Regions from separate parts of the Homo sapiens genome. Here region 1 is linked to region 2. The links come from fine-mapping of genetic effects on gene expression. A gene starts in region 2. The other region holds a variant in brackets. All regions are shown on one strand. Distances are between the middles of the regions.

Evidence for each region. PIP is the estimated chance that this variant, and not a neighbour inherited with it, causes the effect.
Region 1: its variant is fine-mapped to the expression of MINCR in esophagus muscle (GTEx, PIP 0.95).

Annotation. Positions count from the first base shown.
Region 1 is chr8:143,223,567-143,232,016 of GRCh38, forward strand. No RefSeq gene overlaps it. Among named protein-coding and RNA genes, the nearest start is that of GPIHBP1, 15 kb to the left of the region's middle. The variant C/T (reference allele first, on the strand shown) is at 4,321.
Region 2 is chr8:143,278,406-143,286,855 of GRCh38, forward strand. It overlaps MINCR (MYC-induced long non-coding RNA), which reads right to left and starts at 3,295. Exons shown (of 3, transcript NR_120682.1): 1 at 3,077-3,295; 2 at 2,477-2,592; 3 at 1,750-2,110. RefSeq lists enhancers at 1,136-1,778, 3,075-3,224.

The DNA of each region.
Region 1 (8,450 bases), 55 kb before region 2:
GAAGGTTGTTAGGCGCGCACTATGCTCACCAATCTGGTCATCTGTTTCCTTAAAACCTTCAAGGGTCAGATCCTGACACAGACCAGACACCTCTGGAATTCTCTCTCCAGCAAAAGGTTACTTCAAGGCAGGAACCCACTCCCGTCTAGAGACTGACAACAAGATTGACAACAATTAGTTTATAACCTGGTAGAAGCCACGCTGGCCCCTGCACCAGAAGGAACAACAATTCAAGACAAGCCACGGGAGTGGGTCATGCACCTGGCACCTCCTCACCCCCCAGCCTTTTCTGCAAACCCTCTCTTTAAAATCCCCTGCGTGGCAGGGTGCGGTGGCTCACGCCTATAATCCCAGCACTTTGGGAGGCCGAGGCAGGTGGATCATCTGAGGTCAGGCGTTCAAGATCAGCCTGACCAACATGGTGAAACCTCATCTCTACTAAAAATGCAAAAATTAGCTGGGCATGGTGGCGAACGCCTGTAATCCCAACTACCTGGGAGGCTGAGGCAGGAGAATCGCTTGAACCTGGGAGGCGGAGGTTGCAGTGAGCCGAGATGAATCACTGCACTCCAGCCTGGGCCACAAAAGCAAAAGCCTGTCTCAAAAAACAGAAAAAGAAAATCCCCCTGCGTTCCCTCCACAAATGGAAGAGTGGAATTGCTTTCTGCTACGACGGATAATAAAGTCTCATTCTCCATCACACCTCGTTACTATTTTGGCTTCCTTCTACAAGCCACGGGTGGCCAGACCCTTCTGCCCATTACATTATCTTGTAGATGAAGCCTCCAGGTAATTCTTGTAGAAAACTTAGAAAGTAATGACAATGACCTACACACCACCAACCAACTGATTTATGCCAGGTTTTTTTCCTTGTCCATGTTTTGGAGTCTTTTATCTAGTTTATCGAATGACTGTTTCATTCTGGACAAACTCCGCGCACAGCTTTGTCTCCTGCGTTTTTGCTGGGATCAGGTCATGGCCATCTGGAGCAGCGTGCATTTCAGCAGCTTGGATGGTCTGTGACGGAAACCAGCTAGGGGCCTTTCAAACCTCAGTGGCGCTGGCACTTATCACTAGTAACAGTCTTTATTTCTGCTCTGTAGAAGGAGCTTGGCTTTGATATCCTTGAGGTCGGTGGAGTGACGTGAGGAAGCACTGCCGTTGTGGTAAGCCCCCTGAGAAGGGAGATGGTTCCTCGCCACCGGCCTCAGCCTCCCCAGCTGTACAGGGTACGGTGATGTCCTGCAGAGATTTTAACAGATCTTGGGACCCCCTCTTGCTGCCTCAGTGTCATTTCCCACCAGCCCTGGACTGTCCCCTCCAGAATCTCTAAGTCCAGGTGACAGCAAGGTGCACACTGCTTCTTGTCACCCTCCTGGCCACACTGGCTCACTTACACTCAAGAACAGCCTCACAGAGGGAAAGAAACTCATGCAGCAACCCTGCCGGTTACAAGTTAGTGTTTTTTTTTTCTTTTTTTTCTTTTTCTTTTTTTTTTTTTGAGACGGAGTCTCTCTCTGTTACGCAGGCTGAGTGCAGTGGCGTGACCTCGGGTCACTGCAACCTCTGCCTTCTGGGTTCAAGCAAGTCTCCTGCCTCAGCCTCCCGAGTAGCTGGGACTACAGGCGTGCACCAACACGCCGGGCTAATTTTTGTTTTTTTGTTTTTTGGTAGAGTTGGGGTTTTACCCTGTTGGCCAGGCTGGTCTCGAACTCCTGACCTCAGGTGATCCTCCTGTCTCACCTCCCAAAGTGCTGGGATTACAGGCATGAGCGACCAGGCTCAGTCCTTTTTTTTTTTTTTTTTTTTTTTAACAAATTGTTGTTTTCAACATGTGCTTTTGCATAGGCAGAGAAAACTGTCTGGAAGCGGGAGCAAACTCCTGGGAATTGCTTTCAGAGACAGCAGTGGGGAGGGCGCTGCTTCTCACTTGAGGTACTGCTCTTTCATTTGGATCTTCTCGGCAGGCATGCTAATTCTGTAATGAAGAGTCAATGTCAATAAAAGAAAAGATGTATGTGGCTGAATCCCCACAGCAACTAGGCCCCTGCTCTCCTGTCTGGGGCTTGCAGGAGGCCTCCAGGGAGGTGACGCTCCACTGAGCACTGAAGTCAGGGAAAGAAGGGCGGGAAGGCAGCGCAGAAGCAACTGGGAAGGGGTGGGGCTTCCAGGAGAGACTGGGAGCCCCCCGCAGCCCAGCAGGCCTTGGGGTGCTGGGCAGGGTGCTCCATGCTGGACCAAGGTGAGTGGGCGCCCAGGTCCGGGATCTGGGATGTCAGCCGCAGGAGCAAGGAGGTGGTGGTAGGAGACAGCATGGCCCTGAGGGAGGCCCCCCTTGCCCCCAGCTTCCCCTACTGCGGTGCCCGTGAGTCATTCCCGGGTTCATTCCACAAACCTTCCCAGAACTCTGTGCCAGGCACTATGTGGGAAGTGGGGCTGGGGCTGGGGGAGACGCATCTTAGTGAGAACATCCCAGACCCCACAAAGCCCAGGCTGGTAAACACAGGCACAAGCGGAGACAGCCGTGTGGTACAGGGAGGCCTGCCTGGAGGAGGGGGTGCCCAGCTGCCTGGCCCCCTGCATCCTGCGCCTCCCCACATGCAGTTGGTCCCCCTGAAGTCCCTCCTGGGTGCTTTGGGAATATGTATGAAGGGCCCCGAGGGCCTTTCCATACTCCAGCCCCACCTCTGCCCTGGACTTCTCTCCCCAGCCCAAGCCCCATGCTTTAGACCTTCCTGACCCAAAAGCCCCTCCTGTTCTGAATGAGGAAACTGAGGCCCAGGCAGAGGAAAGGACTCAGCTTTTTGTTTTCACAAAGGTTGCACAAGTGATGCAACTTTCCTCACAACACGACGTGGGGGCCCCCAACTTGCAGGCCAGTGCCCCGCCCCGCAGCACGCTCCTGCCCCATCGTTGTATGGACTTAGCACCCCTCACCTTGGCTCCCCCGTCCCAGGCCCAGGCTGGGTCTTTGTGACGGTCTCATGCAATCCCACACAACTTGTGAGGTTGCTGTTGCACTCCATTCTGCAAAATGCGGAGGCTGTGAGGAGACCTGTTGGAGCCAGGATTCAAGGAGCTTTCTCGGCTCCGGAGCACAGGGCTGCCTCTCCCAGGGTTTTCCAAATTCTGGGCTCTGCCTGCTTCCTCTGTCCTCCAGTGAGCATCCTGACTGCCCTGCCCTCTCCATCCTTCTCTGACCCCCAGGCTCCTTCTGTCCTGCACCCATCAGCTCACAGTTTTATGTTGCTGCCGCCTGGGGTCCTGCCCAGTGTCCCAGTTGGTGGGAAGCTCCTGAAGGGCAGGCCGGTGCAGGCACAGCTCTCTGAAGAAGGTTCTGAAGTTGTTGTTAAGACTGCAGTGGCCGGGCGTGGTGGCTCACACGTGTAATCCCAGCACTTTGAGAGGCCAAGGCAGGAGGACCACTTGAGCCTGGGAGTTCCAGACCAGCCTGGGCAACATAGTGAGACACCATTTCTACAAAATAAAAAAAAAAATTAGCCGAGCATAGTGGCGCAGGCCTGTAGTTCCAGCTACTCAGGAGGCTGAAGTGGGAGGATCGATTGAGCCCAGGAGGTTGAAGCTGCACTGAGTGAGGATTGCACCACTGCACTCCAGCCTGGGCAACAGACTGAGACCCTCTCAAAAAAATAAAATTAAATTAAATTAAAATTAAAAATAAATAAATAAAAGAAAGAGACAGAGACTGCAGTGAAAGAGAATCTGCAGAGAGGAAGGGGCTGTGTGTGACTTTGCATCCACAGGATTTTAATTTATGGAGGTGACTGTGCTGGCACAGAGAGGCCAGTGCCATGAGAGAAGTGCCGTCATGCCTGGGAGGATGTGAGGATGAGCGATATGACAGGAATGAGTGTGGGGTCAGCCCCAGGCCACCTAACAGCCAGGCCAGAGGTTGCCTGCTGGCACCTGGGCTCTGACCTTGTGTCTGAGCCCCACAAGACTCCAGGACCCTCTGCACCCCAGGCAAGACATGCCTACCCACTCGGTCTCCTTCAGAACCACGGACAGTGCCGGCGAGCACCACGCGCCACTGACCTGAGCTTCTAGTTAATTCCATATGGTGCCTCTGCCTCCTCCAGACTCAGCTGTCACCACGACCTGGCCAGCAGCAGGACCACCGGCACCCAGGTCTGACCTCAGGCTCCATCCCCTGCTGGACCCATGGGACCTGGCCCAGTGGCACCAGAATACCTGGGCCCCACCCCTGCCCTGGGCCCCACCCCTGCCCTGCGCTGCTGTTTCCTCAGCACTTGCTGTTTCCTCCCAGGCCACCTTCCCAGCAAACTCCCATTTATTTAT[C/T]TATTTATGAAACAGGGTCTCACTCTGTCACCCCAGCTAGAGTGCAGTGGTGCAATCATAGCTCACTGCAGCCTCACCCTCCTGGGCTCAAGCGATCCTCCCACCTCAGCCTCCTGAGTAGCTGGGCCCACAGGCATGTGCCACCATGCCTGGCTAATTTATTTATTTTTGGTAGAGATGGGGTCTCACTATGTTTCCCAGGCTCATCAGCAACTCCCGTGCTCAAACGATCCTCCCACCTCAGCCTCCCAAGTAGCTGGGATTACAGGCGTGAGCCACCACACCCGGCCTCCTTTGTCGTTTAAATCCAAATATCGCCTTGTTCTGCAGGCCTGACCACCTGGGTCCTCGTGGGCTGGGCTCCTCTCTGTACTCCCGTTCCATCATAACCTGCCTCCCCTTCCACAAGGAGCACTCAGGGCGCCAGGGGCTGCGGTGGGTTCCCTGCCCCTCTGGAGCGTAGCAGCCTGTGCCCAGTGTTGGTGCCTGCGGGAGAGGGAGGCGGGGGGGAGAGGGAGGCGGGGGGGAGAACAGGTTCAGATCCTGCTGCTTCCCTTTCTGTCCTGGTGGCCAAGGCTACCTGCACAGGTAGATGAGGAGGGCACTTCCTTTCCCAGTGGGCCCTGGGTGGGATCATGGAGGGAGCCCTCGAAGGCATCTGGAGCCCGGGGCGGGTGCTCAGTCGACATGCACCCCTTCTGTGGTCGGACCCTGCTCCTGGCTTCCTCCCAAGCCCCCGTGCCTCCTGTTCGCTGTTGCTCTGAGTGCCGTCCAGGCACAGGCCCCAGTCCTTGGTGACCTTCCAGGCCACGCCTCTCAGCCCCGACACCTGCAGGGGCTTGGGCCCGTCCAGAGAGCACCCCTCCCTGGAAACCTCCGGGGCCTGGAGCCTGGGGCAACGCCTCTGTGTGGGCCCCGAGGTGAGAAAGGGACCTGTGTGGCCTGGAGTGAGATCCCACTGGGACCGGAGTGTGGACCTGCTGCCTGCCAGCTGTGCCGTCTCAGGCTGGCCATTTAGCCGCTCTGTGTTCGGGTCTCTCGTCCACGACACTGGGAAAAACCAAGCCCATCTCACGGGACTGGTGTGGAGATTTTCTGACCTTCGGCCGCCACACCCTGGCATGTGCTGGGCGACCCCTGCCCTGCCTCATTGCAGTCTGTTTCCCAAGCCGGGTTCTGGTTCCTTGCTTGTCCCCACCCCCCACAGTGTTTCGGACCCTCCTCCGGCATGGGGTCTGCCCGAGGCCCGGCTTCTCACACACACCCCTGCCACACCTACGCACCCTTAATAGGGAGGGACCAGCAAACCCACGGGGACCGAGCCCCACCCCCAGCTGGCTCACCACCCACCCAGAACCCAGCCCTGGGGCCACCATCTGGCCCCTGTGACCCTGCACCGGCCCCTGTGACCCTGAACCGCCCCTGACCCAGGAGCAAGTGCAGTGAGAACACCCTGTTTCCTCCTGGCTCAGGGCGGCCGTGACCTGCAGCTGGAGTGAGGGGCACTTGGGCCTGGCTCCAGGGATAGAGGAGGGGGACCTGCCCAGCATGCTGACCCTGCTCGAGTCTGTTAGATGGGTCTGGGAGGGCCTGCCTCCCTCTTCCACACAGACCCTGAGGGCTCCTCCTCTCCAGCATGGCAGCCTCCAGACCGAGTGCGTCCCGTGCCCACGCCCCGTCCCCCGGGTCGCCTGTCCAGACCGAGTGCGTCCCGTGCCCACGCCCCGTCCCCCGGGTCGCCTGTCCAGACCGAGTGCGTCCCGTGCCCACGCCCCGTCCCCCGGGTCGCCTGTCCAGACCGAGTGCGTCCCGTGCCCACGCCCCGTCCCCTGGGTCGCGTGTCCAGACCGAGTGCGTCCCGTGCCCACGCACCATTTCCCGGGTCACCTGCTCAGACCAAGTATGTCCCAAGCCCGCGCCCATTCCCCGGGGTCACCTGCTCCTTCTCCACTCACCCAGAGGAAGGTGACAGAATGTGGGGATCTGCTTTAATCTGATATCTTCCTGGGGATTTCCTGTCCCCCAGGACAGGAAGCGGGCATCCACTGCTGGGCCTCCGGCTCCTTGTTCTAGTCTGTGGGAACTCGCTGGAGAAGGAGGCAGTGTCCCCAAAGCAGGAAATTCCTAAGGAAGGAACCTCTGCCTTCGGTCCCAGGCAGACCCTAGGGACGCTTTCCTGAGACCACTGAGGTCTGCAGAAGCTAATGGTCACCGGGATGGGTCAGCTCTGCAGGAAGCAGGGCGAGGCCACCGCTCCTGCACCCAGGTCCCTGACAGGAGATGCCCGTATTGGGACCTTTCCAGAGGAGAGAGGCGTCCCCAGCTCCTGTCATGGAAGCAGGTCATGCACCTTCAGGCTGGCCTCAGACCAGGGCACAGCCAAGGCTTCCTGCCCTCTAGGGTCTGCAGGTGGGAGGGGAAGGGGGTTCAGCTAGTTCCATGCTGGATACCGCGGGGTGCAGGGGCTTCCAGACATCAGGAGGTGGGAGCGCTGCCTGACACTCAGGCTTCCAGCAGCAGAGACCTCACGGGGGTGAGCCCTTTCACTGCCGCTTTGGTGGTGCAGGAAGCCTGGACCCAGCTCCCGGCTGGGGCATCCCATGAACAAGAGGAGGGTAGGAACCCAGCAGAGGACAACCTCCTCGACATAAAAACTTCTCCACAAAAGACCCAGGGAAGAGGAAGGAAAGACAAACTACAGACTGGGAGAAAATGTTTGCAAACTGCATAGCGGACAATGGACTGGAATCTACGATCTATTCACAACGTATCTCAAAATTCAACAGCACAAAAACAACCCACTTACAACATGGACAAACGACGTAAAGAGCTATTTCCCTGACGAGGACACGCAGAAGGCAAACGTGCACAGGAACAGATGTTCGACACCACGCACCCTCAGCGTTCCGACACTAGAACCACGGTGAGGCTGCAGCGATGGCTCACTCATGTCATCCCAGGACTTTGGGAGGCCGAGGGGGGTGTATCACTTGAGCCCCAAAGTTCAAGATCAGACTGGGCAACATAGCAAACCCTGTTTCTAAACAAACAAAAAATTCACGGTGAGATCTCATTATACACCTATCAGAACGGCTAAATAAAAAATAAACTGTTGCTGGATGCGGTGGCTCAAGCCTGTAATACCAGCACTTTGGGAGGCCAAAGCAGGAGGATCACTTGAGGTCAGGAGTTTGAGACCAGTCTGGCCAACATGGTGAAACCCTGTCTCTACTAAAAATATAAAAATCAGCCAGGTGTGGTTGTGCGCTCCTGTAATCCCAGCTACTCAGAAAGCTAAGGCAGAAGAATTGCTTGAACCCAGAAGGTGGATTATGCAGTGAGCCGAGATCACACCATTGCACTCCAGCCTGAGTGACAGAGAGACGCTCCATCTGAAAAAATAAAAATAAATCAAATAAATAAATAAATAAACCATGACCACCCCACATGTTGATGGGGAGGCAGAGAAGCTGGGTCACCTACCTGCTGCTGCTGGGAGTGGACGATGGAGCAGCCGCTCTGGAAGACAGCTTGGCTGTTTCTTATCAAACTAGACACGCAACTCCCACGACCCCCTGATGCGCCCCAGAGAAATGAAAGTCATGTTCATACAAAAACCTGCTCATGAGTGTTCACAGCAGCTTTACTTGTTTTAGGCAAAACCTGGGAAGCAGCCCAGATGTCCTTCAATGGCAAAGGGTTCAGCTGGTTCCATGGGCACCAGGGGAGACAGCCCAGCCACAGGAAGGCGGTGCCGCTGAATGGCATAGCCGCCAGGGGGAACTACAGAGACTCTCCGGAGTGAAAGTGGCCTCTCAACAGGCGGCCTCCAGGACAACTTCCTCTGCACAGCTCCCTGCAGCCACAATTCTGGAAATGGAGAGAACCAATGAGTGGCCACAGGGGCTCCCAGATGCCCCTCCCCACAGCGGAGGGTGTAATATTGCACCAAGTTATGCAAAATGATAGCCTTGGGTTGGGCACGGTAGCGCACGCCTGTAATCCCAGCACTTTGGGAGGCCAAGGCCAGTGGATCACCTGAGGTCAGGAGTTCAAGACCAGCCTGGCCAATGTAGTGAAACCCTATCTCTACTAAAAATACAAAAAAAAAAAAAAAATTAGCCAGGCGT
Region 2 (8,450 bases):
TCGTGTGACCTCGAGCAAGCCACGAGTCACCTCGGAGCCTCCGGGTTCTTCTCTGGAAAACGGGCTTGCTGGGGGCTGATGACATCAGATGCGCGCTGCGCAGGCCCCCGCAGACACCGCCAAAAAGCGGGGACGGTAGCCTTCGTCTTCAACAGGACAGTGATCTCACAGGCCCACCACGGGCACACCTGGGGGCCAGGCCGGGGGTTCTGGAGGAGTCACAGCAGGAGGGCAGGTGAGACCTGGAGAGGGCGACCCCGGCGCCCGGGTTGGACTCCCGCCCGCTGCGACCGGAGAGGGGAGCCCGGCGGTCCTCCACGCCGTCCCAGATAGTCCCGGAAGTGGCCGCAGCTCCTGGAGGGGCGGGGAGGGGGCGGGGCCATGCGCACTCGCGGCAGCCCGCACGAGACTCCCGCAGCGGCAGCTGACGGGAGGCTTCCCGGAGAAGGAAGTGGGGTGCGGCGGGTCCTGGGCCAGGCAGGGCTGTTCCTCCGCGCCGGGTCCTAAACTCTCTGCAAGGTCTCTGTGTCCTCCCTCGTTGGGCAGGGCCCGCGAGATGCGCTGAAATGGCATTTACGTCTTTCCCAGTGTCCTCAGTGCCTTCTCCAAGCCCGCGGGCACGGGGCTGATTCTCGAACGTGCCATCTGATCCACTCAACATTTCTCGGGAACCCCAGAGCGGCCCGGCAGGACCCAGGCGTGGACTTTTAAGGGCATTTTTCTACCTTGTGGTGGCTGCCGGGTTTATCAGCGTGCAGTTGAACCGGACGTGATATTCCTGAGCCCTCCCGGGACGCCTGCGACCCTGAGCTGTGCTCGGCCTCTTGGTCACGCCTCTCCCCATCCTCCTTCGATTTGCGTCACACGAGGGCCGCTTGTCCGGGTGGCCGCCCCCGGGGCTGGCTCGGAGCCCCGTCCCACCCCTGCCGGCTCTGCCCCATCCCCCGCCACCAGAGGAACCTGGACGCAGACCACCTGGAGCATCTCCAGCTCAACGGCCAATCTCCAACCCACACCACCTCCAAGCCCACACCACCACCCCTCTCCCTCCTCCGACCCAGGACCCCGATTCTCAGCCTTCGCCCTCTCTCTCCTCCCCGAAGTGACCAGGGATCTTCCTAAAGATCCCATGGTATCTGGGAGCCAAGGTTTGGGATCTGCCAGCCCTGATTCCATAACCCACACTTATCCTTCCTCACGGAGCCTGTTTCTGCCTCTGACAATGGTGGTTAGCGCAGCCCGCTCCGCACCGCACATGGCGGCTGCAAGGACGGCATGGGTGGGGTTCTTTGCACAGTGCCAGGTACATAGCAAATCCCCACAAAAAGAGCTCCTGGAAGGGCTCTGTCAACAGCGTGAGTGGACAGTCTCAGCAGAGGACCACCTGAGGCTTGGGTTGGTCACAGCAAATGTGAGAGACCAGGAAAAGGGGTGCATGTGAGTTCTGGAACCCAGAAAGTGATCATCTGTATCTGGCACAGTATCTGCTTTTGAGCCCAGAAGGAAATAAAGGCCCTGGAGGGGCGCTGAACCCTAAAGCACTGGAGCTGCAGGGAGAGGTCTTCTGAGGCAGCTTCTGGCAGCCCCAGACAAGGGGAGGGCCAAGTGCTGACCTAACCATGGCCTTGGGGGCAGGTGTGCAGGCCTATGGATTAGCAAATAAGGACCGAAACATGCTTATGGATTAGCAATTAAGGACCAAAACATGCCTATGGATTAGCAATTAAGGACCAAAATGAGCTTAAGTTTGGACCCTTTTCAGTTCACAAGCGTTTTTATTTTTACATACATATATGTAGCATGGTGTATTGGCTAAGAAAATCGACCTTGGAATTTCAAGCCCAACTCTACAGTTAACTGTGAGGTTGGATGAGTTATTAATGTCTCTGAATCTATTTCCTGATTAGTAAATGATGTATTATGGTTCTCCAGAGAAACAGAACCAATGATGTGGGGTGGGGGAGGACAAGAGAAAGAGGGTTATTATCAGGAATGCACTCACAGGGTTATGGGGGCTGGGCAGTCCCAAGACCTGCAGCTGTCAAGCAGAAGAGCTGATTGAAAGCCAGTAGACTTGAGACCCACAAAGAGCTGATGTCTCCATTCAAGTCTGAAGGCAAGAAAAGACGTAGGTCCCGGTTCAGTCAGGCAGGAGGTGGTTCCTATGCGGGCCTTGAACTAATTGAATGAGGCCCACCCACATTATGAAGGGCACTCTGCTTCACTCAGTTCACAAATTCAAATGTTAATTTTATCCAAAAACACCCCCACAGACACACTCAGCACACACAGTGTCACTACTTACTCTCAGATTGCTCTCCAGACTGGGGGAACCAATTGACAAGGCCCCCAGCTCCCCCAGCTATGAGACTACATTCCCCATAACTTTTCAGCATGTTCACTTGATTCTCCAACCTTAACAGACTTGTGATATTACTTTAATGGCAAACAAGGCTCTGCTGTCCCACGCGCTTACTTTGCCACATGGCACAGTATCTGTGTCACAGACGCACTCTTCCCAAGGACAGGTCCAGGCCTGTGTCAGTCACTGCTTCATCCCAGCACCTAGCACAGGGCCTGACTCATGGTGAGCTGTGGACAAACGCACATGCAATTAACGACTTGTTCCTGCCTCAGGGTTCTCTTTTCCAGATGAGTAGAACAATTCACATTTTTTCACTCCTTACTTCAGACTGGGAGAAAGGGCCTGAGCAGAAGGATCAGAGTTCAAAGGAGGGGACACAGCGCCACAGAGGCAATGCCTGGAGCAACAAAGATTGGGGTTTGGGCATGTACTGGAGTGAGAGTGGAAAGGGCATGGAAGTCAGGGTCCAGTCAGAAGACAGAGGCCTCGTCAGTTATTTCAACAGAGAGGATTTCGCATCATGAATCACTATGTACGAAGTGACTACCGAAGGAGCTGAAAAGAGAACTCTATCTCAGAAGCAAAAACTGCAGGGAGCACCTGCTACGCTAGGGCTGTGGAAACAAAGGGAAGCGTTTGGAATTACTGGGGTCAGAAAGCCTGGGAACTAAACCCCTAAGGAGAGGGCTTCGCAGGTCTCTGGTCCCTGACCTGGCCCCGAGGGTGGGGACAGATCCCCGAGGCGAGGCGTCGATGGCTGCGGTCTGAGGTCTCTAGCGGGGGGCCGATGAAGCTCTTCTGCGAAGTTGGGAACCCGCGCACCAGTTTTAGCAGCCGCGGAAGGAAGTGCTCTTGCCGGGGCGAAGCAGCAGAGTTCGGAAGACACGCGACCAGGGCACCAAACAGACCGGAAGCCTGAGGAAAAAACCGGAAGCAAACCGGAAAGAGTGTGCCCCTCTCTCCTCCGCAGCCTCGCGCGCTTTCTCTGGCGCCCCTAGTGGGAAAGCCTAGCATGGCACCAGCTGGCCAAGCAGAAAAAGGTTTGCGGAGACCGGGCCAGCCGCAGAGGTGGAGCTGAGGGTCAAAACCTCCTCCCTGGAGCAGGAGGGCAGAGAGGCCTTCCTTGTACGTTCGAGCGGATTCATAAGATAAATGGTGAAGGACTCAGATGGCTGAGATGAGATTTTGTAGAAAAACCTCGCCGAGTGCCAAGTGCAGCTAGGGCTTCAGGAGTCCAGCCTGGTTTGTAAGCCTCGAGGAGCCCACGCGTGGCCGCAGGTGCAAATGGTCTCAGAGCAGCCATGCACGGGAGAATTCCTCCCAGGGAGAAACGCCGTGAATGTGACTTCTAGGGACACGCACAGCCGGTGGAAACCGTATGCATGTAGTGTGCATAGGTGAGATGTAATGGAACACTGGAGAAGCACCTTGTGAACGTGGGAAGGGTTTCGCGCATGCTCAGGCTCCGTTCGGGATCAGAACATTCCCGCAGGAGAGAAGCCAATGAGCAGCACTGGACGTGGCCACACCTTCGTGGAAGCGCTGGTCCTCAGGCATCAGAGTGGACATAGAGAGGCCCTGCAAATGTAATGACTGTGGGAACGCCCGCCTCCTGAGTTCATGCTGCCGTGAGGGAGCGGACTGTGGGTGCGGGCATGCGGAAAGGTCTCAGATAATCCCCACTGGAGAGGAACACTGTGGATGTCATCCACGCAGCAGAATCGGATAAATTGCACCAAGGGACCCCACCCCCACCCCCTGTGCAGTGACCACCGCAAAACCTTTAAGCAAAGATCTCATGCCCCGAAATGCCAGGGCCGTCACCAGGGATGCAGCAGGGAGTGAAACACCCATCTCTTTTCTCACACCAAACCGTAGCCAAGGGATTCACCACGAGGTGAGCCGGTGCGAGAGGGAGGACTCTGCAGGCGGAGACTGCCCTCGGGGTTGTGGCCTCAGAACGGGGTCCTGCTCCCTGGAGACATGGACCCTGTTTCTTACAGTAGCTTTTGTGCATCATGGGCAGGCAGTGCCAGTTGACACCAATCAAGTCTCAACACTCAGCCTGCACACGTGCAGATCCTCTGGAAAAACGCAGCCCCTCCCATCCTCAGATCCTAAGAGAGGTAGGGGCCTTGCCCATTAGCTGACTCCAAGACAACCTGGCTGGGACTAGAAGGTGAGAGCCAACCCCTGCGGCTGCTACAAGCCCCACAGGAGGCCCGGGGAGGGTTTCCTGGCAGTGTCTTCCGAGTCGCCGCAAGTTTCTGCCCAGTTTTCACAGCCTGCTCTTCCCTGGGTTCCGGCTGGGTCTCTTCCTCAGGTATGGCTCCACGCCTCCCCTGCCCAGTTGATGCAGGTCTCGCTCTGATCACATCCAGTTCCTGTAGACCATTGGCCACTCACCAGGCCGCTTTGCCTTGCGTTTTCTAGGGTCTTGTTTCATGGGGTCATGGGAACCCACTCAGGGACCACCCAACTACCTGAGAGGCCCACTGGAAAACGCAGATTCCCAGGCCCCACCCCAAGGGATTCAGCAGGCCTCAGGGGAAGCCAGGAAATCTGGATTTAGTTCAAATACCCAAATACATTGATCATGGGCCTGGTTCGGGAATCTGTTCTCCTCCAAGCCCTCAAAGCAGGAGCTGCTGGCCTGCCCTCTGCAAGGCCGCTGCCCAGGCTCTCCTCAGACACCACCTGGACGGGCAGCTCGAGCCGTGGGACGCCCCTGCTTGGGCCAGAATCGGGTCCTGCACCTCAGACCTGCAGGGCCCAGCTCGGCCTCTGGGCCTCTGGCAGCCGCGCCCTGCCTGGCACCCCCTGCCTCCGTGACGCCCCATCTCTCTCTCTACAACGTAGCCCCGTGCTAGTTCACAGCCTCGCGACCCCTCCCAGAGAGGCCCCACAGCCATGGCCCCCAGCCGCGCGAGCAACGCCAGGCACTCGCCCGGCCCTGGCCCGCCACCCTTGGGTTCGCCTGGGGTCCCCCGCCAGTCTTCCGAACGGGTCCTCCGAGCTGCCTAGAGCGCCCGGAAATGCCCTCGGCATGGGGCGGGGCTTGCGGGGGCGGGGCCGCGCTGCCGACTCGGGCTGGGCTTGGCTCACTGGGCCTAGGCAGTGCCTCAAGCGTGGGATACCCTGGTCAAGTCTTTAAAGATCACAGGTTTTAAACAGATTTCTTTTTACCCAATAGCATTTATTCATACTCTTTAAAGAAATTTGGGAAGTGTAGGAAAAATAGAAGAGACAGAAATTTTCTCCTCAGCACTACGGGCTAAGTATCCCAAATCCAAACACCCCCAATTCAAAACTTTTGAGCAGCTGACATGCCGCACAAAAGGAAATACTCACTGGAACACTTCAGATTTCGGATGTGGGAATTTGGGAGGCTCACCTGCTAACTATGGTACAAATATTCCCCAAAAAAAGCCAAAGCTTTTTTTTTTGAGACAGAGTCTCGCTCTGTCGCCCAGGCTGGAGTGCAGTGGCACGATCTTGACTCACTGCAAGCTCCGCCTCCCGGGTTCACGCCATTCTACTGCCTCAGCCTCCAGAGTAGCTGGGACTACAGGCGCCCGCCACCGCGCCCAGCTAATTTTTTTTTTTTTTTTTTAGTAGACACGGGTCTTCACCGTGTTAGCCAGGATGGTCTCGATCCCCTGACCTCGTGATCCGCCCGCCTCGGCCTCCCAAAGTGCTGGGATTACAGGCGTGAGCCACTGTTCCCGGCCGCCAAAACACTTCTGGTCCCAAGCATTTTGGATAAGGGATACTCAGGCTGTACAAGGAATGTCTGTGCACGTTTTTAGCAGCTCTTGCTGTTACACTAAATAGACTTCATGGTTAGCTTGTCCCTAAAATAACCTTCACGTCCTGAGGTCTGAGATCTGCTGGGAGCAGTGCTGGAAGCCCTATTCCCCCACAGCGAGAGGGGCGCCAGCATCCCTCATTTACGGGAGGAAATCGAGACTTGGTGAGGACGTCCCACAGCCCGGATTTGAACCCAGGCTTGGATCCGAGGCCCACGTGCTTGCTCCACAATGCCCCCTGCTGGCCACCCTCCCTGCCCTCAAAGATTGCTGTAACCAGAAGTGGACGAGCATTTCGGGGAGGAATGCTCCCCGCACAAGCCGAGGGGTCTCCCAGACTCCACTTTGGTGTCCCTGGAGTGCCCATGCCAGCGACCTTTTGGTGGGTCTTTTACCCCAGATGGAACTGTCGCCAAGTGTGTCCCCATCGTGGGGAGAGGAAGTGGATCAGCAGCGTCAGGCCTTGCGGAGGTGCACTCGCACCCTCCTGCGCTACGGTCTCAGAGGCAGGAGGACGCTTTCAGGGAGCCAGCCGCTGTGGCACCTGCAGCAGTTTCAGCAGTTGGGCAGCTCCAGCCGCCCTGCCACACCCTCACTCCTCATCCACTCCAAAATTCAACGCAGCATGCCGAGCCCCAGGTACGTTGAGGCGGAAAGCTATGGTCCCCGCCCGGAGGAGCCATGCAGTTCCCCGCAGCGTGGGTGGAGGAGGAGGGACAGGTGTCCCAGTCCTTGAGTCTCAGGTGGGCAAAATCATGCCACTACTGTGGCACTCGTGTGCCTGACTCCAGGCAGGGCCTTCCCGTCCTGCCGCCCTGCACTCTGTGCATGGCCATTCTGTGAGGCTGCTGCTCCTCAAGCAGCCCGTGGGATGGGAAATCCCCTCGTTTACACGGTAGACCATCCAGCCCAGCGCCTGCTGCAGAGCCTGGGTGAACAGCGTCTGGGTGACGAGAGTAACAGGCAGGATGCAAGTGGGAGCAGGCGGCTTCCCAGGACCTCGGTCCATGTGCCCATCCAGCAGGACCCTGAGCCCAGCTCCCATCTGGGGAGAGGGCTCCACGGGGGCAGGCAAGAGGGGCTGCATGCTGAGCTCCTGAAAGCTCTAGAATGCCCTCTGTAGCCATTACACTCGACGGAGGGCATGGCGAATAGCAAGGGCTTGGGGCATGTGGTTGGGTTTTAGGTTTTTCCTTGCAGGACTGTGCTGAGCCTGCACCACTGGGAAGCCCTTGGCCTCTGCCCTTTCTCTGAAACGCTCCTCTTCTGCCTGGATGCCTTGGTCATTCTTTCCTCATCCATAACCTTGAATAGCTTCACCAAGATCCGTGCTGGTGTCAATATTTTATATTAAGTTTTCCTGGGATATGGTGTTCTTGATTTTTTTGAATTAGGGTATAATTTACATAGCGAAAATGCCCAAATTTTAAGCACTCGGCTTGACTGTTTACATGTTTACACTCTTGCTAATCCCCCCAGGTCACAGCATGGAACTTTCCAGAGCTTCTCCTCCCTTTCCCTTCCCCTCCCCCAGCTGATGGGTATTCTAGCTTCTGGAGGGCCCTGTCTGCCATCGGGCCTCTCAGGAATGGATTCGTCTGCCCGCCCTCCTGGCACTCCTTTTGCTCCACACGATGTGCTAGAGGTCACTCCGGGTGGTTCTGTGTGTCTGTTGGCCCCGTCCGCGCCGGCGTGTGGTTTCCCATTCTGAGTGTTTGCTCTGACCCCATTTTTATTGCTGGGGTTGTGTGCTTCTCAAGCCCTTTTCCAATCCCAAACCTGTGGTGTCTTTTCTGAGTTAGAACACCCTAGTGGCTACAAGGACCCCAGAGTAGGAAGCCCAGCATCCGTGCGACAAGGCTGGGTTCCCTGAGAGCCAAGCGGCCTCCCCACCTCAGCGCCCTCCCCAAACTCCTGCCCACACTTCAGGACCCGCTGGCAGTGCTGCTTGAGTCACTGCTCCCTGCTCTCTGCTTCTAATGAGGCCTCCACGCGCTGCTTTCTGGCACCTGGCAGGCGGTGCCTGCTGTGCCTGTGTTTCTCCCTTCTCTTTCGCGAGCTCCCAGGGCAGCCCCCGTGGTGCTCTGTCCACCTTCGGGGGTGTCCCTGGTGCCCAGCGCAGCAGGAGTGAATGTCCTGAGCCTGAGCCAGTTCTCCTTGACTGCACAGCACCAAGGTGCCAGTCAGTGCTGGTCAGGCTGGCCGCTAGGTCTTGGTGCACCCGCCACTTCCTACCACCCTTGCATTTTCTCCTCTTAGGGCCACTGGTGTGTCTC